2 separate regions of the Homo sapiens genome follow, and region 2 is reported to be linked to region 1. Evidence: microRNA targets listed by miRTarBase, many of them from high-throughput screens and not tested one by one. Region 1 holds a microRNA gene; the other region holds the end of a gene's coding sequence.
The links. Region 1 holds the annotated microRNA hsa-miR-1827 (UGAGGCAGUAGAUUGAAU, at 3,832-3,849, opposite strand). A microRNA usually pairs through its seed, bases 2 to 8, with sites in the 3' UTR of a target mRNA and lowers its output. Matches are read on the target gene's strand: a 7mer-m8 pairs with bases 2 to 8, a 7mer-A1 pairs with bases 2 to 7 and ends in A, and an 8mer does both.

Region 1 (5,254 bases):
TGTAATTTTCACATTTCACAAAATATTCTTTTAATTGTTTTCAGCCATTTAAAAATGTTAGCTGGGCACAGTGGCTCACTCCGGTACTCCTCCCAGCACTTTGGGAGGCCAAAGTGGGAGGATCACTTGAGCCCAAGAGTTCAAGACCAACCTGGGCAACAAAGTGAGACCCCATCTCTATAAAAATTTTAAAACTGGCCAGATGTGGTAGCAAATGTCTGTAGTCCCAGCTACTTGGGAGGCTGAGGCAGGATTGCTTGAGCCCAAGAGGTAGAGATTGCAGTGAGCTGTGTTCTCACCACTGTACTCCAGCCTGGGTGACAGGCTGTTTTTTGTTTCAAAAAAACAAAATAGCAAAATAAAAATGTTAAAACCATTCTTGGCTTGTAGATTGTACAGAAATAGGCAGAGGCTGGAAATGACTCCAGGCTGTAGTTCACTGACTTGCGTTCTAGGAAGGCCTCAGGAGCTTCCCACTCACTCACTCACTGTGTGTGATTAGGCACTAGGGATATGACTGGACAAGATAGTCCCTGTCCTTGTGGAGCTGTCAGTATCCAGGGAACAGATATTAATAAAATATAACAAACACCAACCAGTGCTAGGAAGTTTGAAAGGAAAGAGAGGCAGTACATGTATAGTTCAGGATCTTGATGTGGTTTAGGGGTTGGGGAGGGCTAGGAAAGACTTTCCTGAAGAAGCGACATTCCAGCTGAGACACAAAGGACGAGTTGGTGTTGACTGGGGGGCGTGGAGAGGGGGAGTAAAGTGTTCTAGGGAGAGGAAGTGGCATAAACAGAGGCCTTTAGGTGGGGGTGCTGTTTGCATGTGGGACTCAAGGAGTGCCTGGTGGCAGCTAGGGGTGAAGGGGACATAGCCTTTGGAAGAGGCAGGGCTTGGGTCAGGGCAGGATTTTGGTCTTTGTCCTAAGAGCTATGGAGTCAGTGAAGAGTTTTAAGCAGAGTTTGACAAATCGTTTCTTTTCTTTCTTCTTCTTCTCCCAAATTGATTGCCTTTGTTTATTTGGGCTGCTGTGATAAAATACCATAGACAAGGTAGCTTATGAACAACAGAAATTTATTTCTCATAGTTCTGGAGGCTGGGAAGTCCAAGATGAAGACAGCAGCAGATTTGGTGTCTGGTGGGGGCTCACTCTCTGTTTTAGAGATGATGCCTTGTAGCGGTGTTCTCACAGCAGAAGGGACAGACAAGTTCCCTCTGGGGCCTCCATCTATGTATACATATATATGTGTGTATATATCCATGTATGTATACATATATATGTATGTATGTATCTAGCTACCTAGCTAAGTGTATTTTTCTCCTGAAATCCCTTTTACCACTCTGGCCTCTTCTATAAGGACCCTGATCTCATTCCAGAGGGGTCTGCCCTCATGACTTAATCACTTCCCACAAGGCTTCACTCTTACTACTATTATCTTGGGGACTAGGTCTCAACATAGGAATTTTGTGGGGACACAGACATTCAGACCGTGGCACTGATGATGGTTTAGTCATGCCTAGTATTTTTATTTAACTAGGTTGGAGGATTATCTTGTTTGTGTATGAAGGGTTGAAGTATTTATATGTTATGTACTGGCAAACATTTAAAAGTAGATAAATGCAAAGCTGAACCTATTTGGAGCAGTTGCTTCTTAATTGTTTCTGAGTTGGGGGTGCTGTGATGGATGAAGCTCACTTTGGCAGGTATGTGTGGCTGGGGCCAGCCCCACCCCGGTGGACTTCCTTTCCTGAAGGATTCCTAATGGCCCTTAGCATTGACTTCTCTCCTGCTGCACTTGCTTTGCTTGTATGCACATTGCCAGTTTCCTTCCACCATGGAGATAACAATTTCTTGAGAAATGAAAGGAGGGGTCAGATGCATTCGGGGTGGAGGTGTACCAGCTCCCACCTCACTGAGGCATCTGATGAGGGTAGACAGGTGTCCTTGGTCAGACGCTTTTACCTTTGAGGCACTGGGGTGCAGACTTCCCACCTCCAGTCAGAACAAAATATAGACAGTAACAACCCCTTCCTCTAAAGAAAGAAAAGGACCCTGCCATTGTATCTCAGACTGGGAGAGGGAAGGGCATTTTCATTAGCAATTTTCAGTTCTGGTATTTATGTAGTGGGGTCTTAATGATATTTGATTGGGTGTTTACCTATATCGTATCAGGCTAGCCCTCAGCTGGGTTTCGTTTACTTTCACAGAATGAATGTATTGTGGAAATGGTAAACTAGGTAGTCGTGACTAATTAGTGGCTTCTAACTAGTGTTCTGTGAAATACTCTGCCTAAAGTGCTCAGTTCAGTAAACATCCTGAGCACTCGGTTGTGTGAGACCATCTGAGGGGCAAGGAGCTGAGAGGATCCCTAGGGAGACTGTGGCTTTCATGATTGTCCAGTAGGCAGTAGCTCACCAGCCAGCACAGGGGGCCCTCAGTCGGCTAGAGATTCAGGATGGTTTTGCTCCCTGATCTAGTCTTTGAGCATCTGCTGTTGTGTCCTACTAGAGCATCACCTCCTAGGAGGAGATTTTGTCAGTATAGTTCACTACTGTGCCTTTCATGCTTAGAGGATGCCAGATGCTTATTGCCTAACCCAAGCTTTAAGCCCTCATATCCTCTTGGAGTGTGTGTGTGTGTGTGTGTGTGTGTGTGTGTGTGTGTGTGTGTAAACCTCTCCCTCTCTGGATCAGTGAGAGTGTTGTTAAGGTTACAAATAAGAAATGCCTAGCACACTGCCTGACTGATTGTAAGTGCTCTGTAAATGGTGGCTACACACCCCAGGCCTGCTGGCATTGCTGCCACTGTTGCCCCTCTGACTCTTTTGAGCCAGTAGGTGAAGTGTGTCTCCACTCCCTTGGGTGGAGTGGACAGGGTGCCTTTCTCAAGGGCAGTTGTGAGGGCTGAGCTGGCCGGGAAGGTGTGCTCTTCCTTCCAGGCCTCCCTCCCACAGGTCTTCTGCGGGCCCTGCAGTTGGCCCTGCTCTGACTCTTAGTTTTTGCTTCATTCTTGACCCACTCAGGCCTGGTAGAAAGAGTTATCTGTGAGCACGGCGGGGGTTCCCAAGAATCTATTATGGTTTTAGTGTCTAGGACTCTAAAGTCGTGACAGTGACTCGTCTCTTCAGCCCCTGTTTGCAGCAGAGGGCGCAAACCAGCTCAAAGCAGGCACACAGATGTTTGGTGAATTGGGAGAAGTTGTTCCTGTCCAGGAGCCATAACGTGGTATTTGTAATTTTCCTCGTTGGAAGGCATGGCTCTGTCTGCCAAGAAAGACAAGGCATGTAGTCACCATGCTGCTGCCTCACAGTGACATTTTTAAAGCCAGACCTTCTAGAGAAGGAAGCAGGAAGGAAGGCGACTTGCTTTTGGGCCCGTGGAGTTTCAGCAGTTGCGGGAAGTTGGCTGGGCTGTGTGTGTGTGTTGCTGCATTGGTGCCTGGTCTTCTTTGATAGCTCCCAGGAGCATGAGGTTGTGCTTAGCAGTTGTGTCCCATCAGTCCTCTTGGTCTCGATCAGTTCACACGCTCCCAGGGCCCCACGTATCAGAAGGGCCGCCGTTGCATAACACTGTCCATGGAAATCACTGCAGTCATGAGAGGAGCAGTGGCTTTGGCCTGTAGACTCAGAGACCTTTCACCATGACTCAGCATGGGAAGCGGAGGCTCAGAGAACTTCAGCCTGTCTTGTCCAGGGCCACCAAGGGAGCAACTGAGCCATGTCTTCTGTTATATTTAGAGTTGGGGGCTGAGGAGGGGCGCCTATCTGCATTCTCTGCCGGTCCTGGGTCCACCTGTTGCAGGGACCCAATTCTAAGGGACCTGAATCAATTCAATCTACTGCCTCAGCCTTTCAGAGGCTTCTCATTGCTTTAGGCTGAAGGCTGTGCTGCTGAACATGGCCTTCAGGGTCCCATGGGGTCTGACTCCTGTCATTTCCTCTGTTGCAGGCCCACTTGACTTCTTGCAGTTCTTCAGATGTATTGTCTTCCCGACAGGCCCTGCCTCAGGCTGTCCCTTTGCAGGGCGGGCTGTCTCTTCTCTGGTTACTTCTGTTCGTTCTTCAGAGAAGCCTTCCCTGTTCCTCCCATTCCTCACTGCCGTGCTTCTCCTTCACAGCCCTTACCACTGCCTGTAGTTACTGTATTTCTTTGTGTACTCATCTGTGGTCTAGCTCCCTTGCAAGGCTGGGAGCTCCATGGGGCAGGGACCCTGTCTGTCTTGTCTCTGGTTTACCCCAGTGCCTCACACGGCCTGGTACATAGTGGGTGTCCAGCATCGACTTGAGGAAGAGTGATGAGGGAAGGCTCCAGACCCTTTCAGGGGCAGAGTTGCTCTACTGCTCCTGCTCCTGCTGCTTGGGGCTCATCATCCTCTGCCCTGCACACCCGTGGCAGGGGGGGTCTGCCCACACCCACCTGCCTTTGTGCCACACTCCCTTCCCTAGCAGGACGATGGTTCCTCTCAGCACTGTCCTTTTTGTTTGGCCTCCTGGTGGGAGGTGAAGCCAGCTGGACTTCCTGGGTCGAGTGGGGACTTGGAGAACTTTTCTGTCTAGCTAGAGGATTGTAAACACACCAGTCAGCGCTGTGTCTAGCTAAAGGATTGTAAATGCACCAATCAGCACTCTGTAAAAACGCACCAATCAGTGCTCTGTGTCCAGCTAAAGGATTGTAAACACACCAATCAGTACTCTGTAAAATGGATCAATCAGCACTCTGTAAAATGGACCAATCAGCGCTCTGTAAAATGGACCAATGAGCAGGATGTGGGCAGGGACAAATGAGGGAATAAAAGCTGGCCACCCCACCCAGCAGCGGCAACCTGCTCGGGTCCCCTTCCATGCTGTGGAACCTTTGTTCTTTCGCTCTTCATCATAAATCTTACTGCTGCTCACTCTTTGGGTCCGTGCCACCTTTAAGAGCTGCAACACTCACCGCAAAGGTCTGCAGCTTCATTCTTGAAGTTGGCGAGACTAAGAACCCACCAGAAGGAACCAATTCTGGACACTGGGAAGGATGTTACCTTCGGACACAGTGTTGTTCACTTTTTTGACTGGGAACCGACAGCAGATAATACACCTTTGTATGTAAATGTATACTGTCAGTATGTACATAAAACTGAAAGAAAAATGTCACTGCTACATATAGTAAAGCTAAGTACTATTTTCTCTTTTAATACTAAAAAAAATGCTTGTCCCCTCAAAATTGACTTCTTATCTTCTTAATTTGATATCCTGGCCCACAGTGGGTC
Region 2 (5,000 bases), not on the chromosome of region 1:
TGGAAATGCCACCTGGTAATGAAGAGAACAGATGTGTAGTGCTACACACTTTACCTTTGCTGAGTAGATGCCTAACAGAAGGAAGGGTAGGCATATGCAGCTTTGTTTGTTGATGAGACTAATCTTGGACTTTCAATTTTCAAGGAAATTAAGCCTTTTTCTGAGAAGGGAAGAATTATTCCAGTGTACTCACCCTCAGGAACGCTGGCAGAGTAGGGTAGATGAACTGATGGTGGGATCAGAAAAGAAGTGAAGCTCAGAGGAGGCTGATGGATTGGGAGAAAGCCGTCTAGAACCTGGAAGTCTAGATGAGGTTAAAGAATAAATATGGCCGGATGCAGTGGCTCCCGCCTGTAATCCCAGTACTTTAAGAGGCCAACGGTGGGCAGATTGCTTGAGCCCAGGAGTTTCAAACCAGCCTGGGCAACATGGCGAGACGGTGCCTCTACAACACAAGAAAAACAATTAGCCAGGCATGGTGATGTGTACCTGTGGTCCTACTTGAGAGGCTGAGGTGGGAGGATTGCTTGAGGCCAGCAGGTTGACTGCTGCAGTGAGTCATGTTTGTGCCACTGCACTCCTGTCTGGGTGACCAAGCAAGACCCCATCTCAAACAAAAATAAAAGAATAAATGTGTCATAGGAGCAGAGAGCAGGATAGAGGCAGTAGCAGTCAAGAGCTCACACTTTCTGAAATGGGAGAGCACCTGGAGGCACAGGGAGTGAGGATGTGACCAAGGGGCTAGGAGACTGGGGTGGGGTCTCCAGAGCTGCAGGAACCATCAGTAGCTGGCACCCAGAGCAGCAGTGGGGTCACCCATGGACTCTGACGTCACCCAGGAAAGCAGCAGGAGTGGAGAAGAGGGGAAGTAGAAAGGGCCTGAACTCCACAGGAGGAGGAGGGATATGGTGACCTCAGTCGGAAGGGGAGGTGACTTGAGCCCCAGATGAGCTAGATACTTTGAGAAGCATGGAGGCCTCCTGACCTGGGAGTAGCACTGGGGACCAAGGAGAATGCAGCCCCAGCATGACCGGTGTTTTTGCCAGGTCTTGCTTCTGCCCTTTCCATTGCCATCCCTGTTTCTCAAGGGGTGAGTTCAGATCTGCTATTCCCGTTTTCCATGGGAACCAGTGACTGACAGGACCTGTTGCTGACGTGCTGCGGAGACATACATGGTGCTCACAAAGGGGCACCCTTCTTTTTTTTTCTCTTTTTTTTTTTTTTTTTTTTTTGAGACAGGGCCTCACTCCAATTTGCCCAGGCTGGAGTACAGTAGCACAATTTTGGCTTACTGCAGCCTCGACCTCCTGGGCTCAGGTGATTTTCCCACCTCAGCCTTCCAAGTAGCTGGGACCACAGGTGTATGCCACCACACCTGGCTACTTTTTGTGTGTGTGTATTGTAGAGACGGGGGTTTCACCATGTTGCCTAGACTGGTCTTGAACTCCTGAGCTCAGGTGATCCACCTGCCTTGGCTTCCCGAAGAGCTGGGATTACAGGCATGAGCCACCATGCCCGGCCCAGAGGGCACCCTTCTAACAACCCCACTGCCCGTCTGCTTGCTGCCTGCACATGGAGGCCCTTCATAATGCTGTCCAGGGTGCCTCGAGCATGAGGTGCCTCTGACTGTGGTTGAAGCAGGCCTCTGGGAGTCCAGAGCTGGTCTTGAGAAACAACTTCAGGGTCCAGCCTGCAGTTTGGGATCCGGCATCTCCCCCTCCCACCCCAAGGCTACTTCCCTGGGAGCTCAGGGGCAGCACTCAGGTGCTCACGGCTCTGCACAGCTTTTCACAGGCTCCTTTCTCTGCAGAATCTCCCTGTCCCTGCAGTCACTCCCCTCCCCTATCCCCCACCCTCCCCCAAGGCCCACTTCTTAGGAGCTGTCCCCACTCAGGGCTTGACTGTGCATTCAAGTCAGGGCAGGCTCAGGGCCCCCCACTGAGGAAACCACCTCCGCCAACCAGCCTCCCCTCAGCTCCCTCATCCACTCTCTGGCCTCCACGAGGTCCCCACTTCTCCCATTTTCTCCCATTGTCCTCAGTGTCCCCACTCCCCACCCCCAGCCTCTGTTGCTCTCTGTCCGGGAGCCCCTGTGCTTCTCCCAGAACTTGTCCACTGGGCAGGACTGACAGGCAGGACGGCTCTTCCTCCCCCGAGCCAGGGACTTAGTAGGCAGGGGGCATCCAGGCCTTCCTGGCCAGCATCTGGGAATTCACCCAGATGGTTTATGCAAGTCCTACTCCCCCAGGGCTGGCCAAGGCCCATCAGAGTGGATCCCATGAGTCAAATGAGTGCAAGCGTGAGCTTGGATAGAACATCCACTGGACAAAAGGCCAGATACAAAATTGTCTATGTGTATTGTGTATATAAAATAAAACCACCATATGACACATCACTAGGAGGAAACATGCCACTGTTACTGCTTCAGAGTAAAGTTATGGGTGGTTTTAATTTTTTCTTTCCTTTAGATTTAATCCTCTTTTTATAAAAATTGTGGTAAAATACACATAACATAAAATGTACCATCTTAACCATTTCAGTGTATAGTTCAGTATTGTTATGTATATTCATATTGTTGCACAACTGATCTCCAGAACTTTTTCATTTTGCAAAACTGAAACTCTTCACCCATTAAAGAACTCCTCACTTGCCCTTCCCCCATTCCCTGGCAAGAGAGGTTTTACATTTTTAAAATTGTTTTCATTTTTGCTTATTTGCACTTTCCAAATTTTCTATCATGAGCATTTATTATTTTTATAATTGAATTTTTAAAACTAAACATCTGCAACCCTGTACCACGTCCTCCACTTTCTCGGCAGGGAGCATGAGCTATGGGCATGAGCTAGGAAGCTGTCTGCAGGGAGAACCCAGACAGACCGACCGAAGGTCATCCTCCAGCTCCCAGCCTTGGAAGCCAGGGCTTCCTCTCAGGAGGACAAGACTCAGGGACTGCAGCAGGACAAGTTTCCTCCATGAACTGAGTCCTGGCTGAGCAATGACTTGGCCTGCAGGGATTCAGAATGGGGCTCAGTTTCAAGGACTACTTGTCCCTGTCCCTCTTCTCACTGCATTGAGTTCGGCAGAACCCTCCACAGGGTCACTCCTTGCCCTTGGTTGGCCATGTCTCTTGCCCTCAGAGACCCTCTGGCCAGCCAAGTCCAATGCTCTGCTCACTGGACTCCCGAGCCAGCCTGCACGTATGTGAGGACGGAGGTGGGCTGTGGTGGTGGGGTCTGCTTGCATGCTGGCTTTGCCCCACTTGTGCTGGGAGAGGCTGGGGAGGGCATGGGGAGGTCAGGGAGGAAGTGGGGCTTGGGGTTGATAAAGATGCAGATAATAACTTCCGCCCTTTCAGTCTGAGGGTATTGTTGGTTTTATTATAAGCAGTGGCTTACACACACACAGAAAGAAAACCATAGCTAAAGTGCCAAAGCATGACACTGTGGAAAGCCAGCGCCTCTTTCATTTTTCAGGCAAGGAACCAAGGCCTAGAAAGGTGGACTGATTGGCCGGGTGTGGTGGCTCATGCCTGTAATCCGAGGACTTTGGGAGGCCGAGGTCGGCGGATCACCTGAGGTCAAGAGTTTGAGACCAGCCTGGCCAACATGGTGAAACCCCGTCTCTACTAAAAATTAAAAAAAATTAGCTGGGCATGCTGGGGCTCACCTGTAGTCCCAGCTACTCGGGAGGCTGAGGCAGGAGAATCGCTTGAACCCCGGAGGCGGAGGTTGCAGTGAGCCAAAATCGCGCCACTGCACTCTAGCCTGGGCGACAGAGTGAGACTCTGTCTCAGAAAAAAAGAAAGGTAGACTGATATGCTTGATGGTGCATGACAAGGTGGTGACAGCAGGGCTGAGATTGGAACCAGGTCCCCTGGATCCCTGGGCCCCTGCCAGAACCTGAACAGGAACTGGGAAGGACAGTGAGGACCCAGTGGGACCGTTTCAGAAACTGGCAGTGGTGGCAGGGAGTCCCCAGAGGGAGGACTGCTGAGCCCCAGCTAACTGTGATATTTCTGCAGGGTAAGGATTTGAACTGGGGGAGTGGCAGTGGACAGATAAGAAGCACAAGGTGTGGCGTCTGGTCAGTGTGAGTCCTCAGCAGTCAGGGATCCCTCCTCCTGCTGTTTCCCTCTGAGGGAAACTGAGGTGCTGGTCAGAATTTCTAGGCTGAACTAGGGACAGTACGTGAAGGCATCCCTGCAGAGGAAGGCAGATGTGTCTCCCCAGCTCCAGGTGACCCTCTGGCCCCTCCAGGTGAAGCCACTTTAAGGCTCCACTCAGGATGGATCGGTCTCTTGCTGCGCCTCTGGGCCATCGTTCCCAGCCAGGGGGTGGACCCAGCTGCCCAGGGAGCCCACATCACACAGGGTGCTGCCTGTGGTCATCCTGCTGAGGCTGTGGGAGCTGTGGCGGGGTCTGAGGCGATGGCAGCAGGCCCCGAGGCACAGGGCCTCCTGGAAGGTCTCTCGGAAGCGGCTGGACATGAGGCTATAGAGCACGGGGTTGGCCGCCGAGCCCAGGTAGAAGAAGATGCCGGAGATGACGTGCACGTGCTGGAAGGCCAGGTGCAGGCCATCTGTCCACTGTGACACGACGCTCCACATGACGCGGTCGGCGTGGAACGGGGCCCAGCAGATGCCAAACACCACGACCAGGACAACTGCAGGGACAGAGAAGGGAGGCCGAGTGCCCGCCCGAGGCCCCTCAGCTGCCTTCCCGGGCTTCAGTTTGGGTCACCCATTTTCACATCCTCTCCTATCCCACAGGCCACCCTCACCTATCACCCAGGTGGAAGTTTCTGGAAATTTGCCTGTTCTGGCCATGCCTCTCTCAGAGAGGCTGCCCTCACCATGGTCACTGACTGTGGGCAATGGGGCATATCCCTGCCTCTGACCACAGCCAACTGGACCAGGTGTGGACACCTAAGCCCAGCCGGCCCAATCAGATTCTCTCACCCTGGAATATGAAATTGGGTGACACTTAGCTGTGGCTGTTGAG

Region 2: the mRNA of NMUR1 is a reported target of hsa-miR-1827. Seed matches in the 3' UTR shown: 8mer at 3,692-3,699.

What each region holds. Positions count from the first base shown.
Region 1 is chr12:100,188,527-100,193,780 of GRCh38, reverse strand. MIR1827 (microRNA 1827) reads right to left here and starts at 3,897; the gene lies at 3,832-3,897.
Region 2 is chr2:231,520,764-231,525,763 of GRCh38, forward strand. It overlaps NMUR1 (neuromedin U receptor 1), which reads right to left. Exons shown (of 3, transcript NM_006056.5): 3 at 2,424-4,662. The coding sequence ends at 4,280. Among named protein-coding and RNA genes, the nearest start is that of NMUR1, 7.2 kb to the right of the region's middle.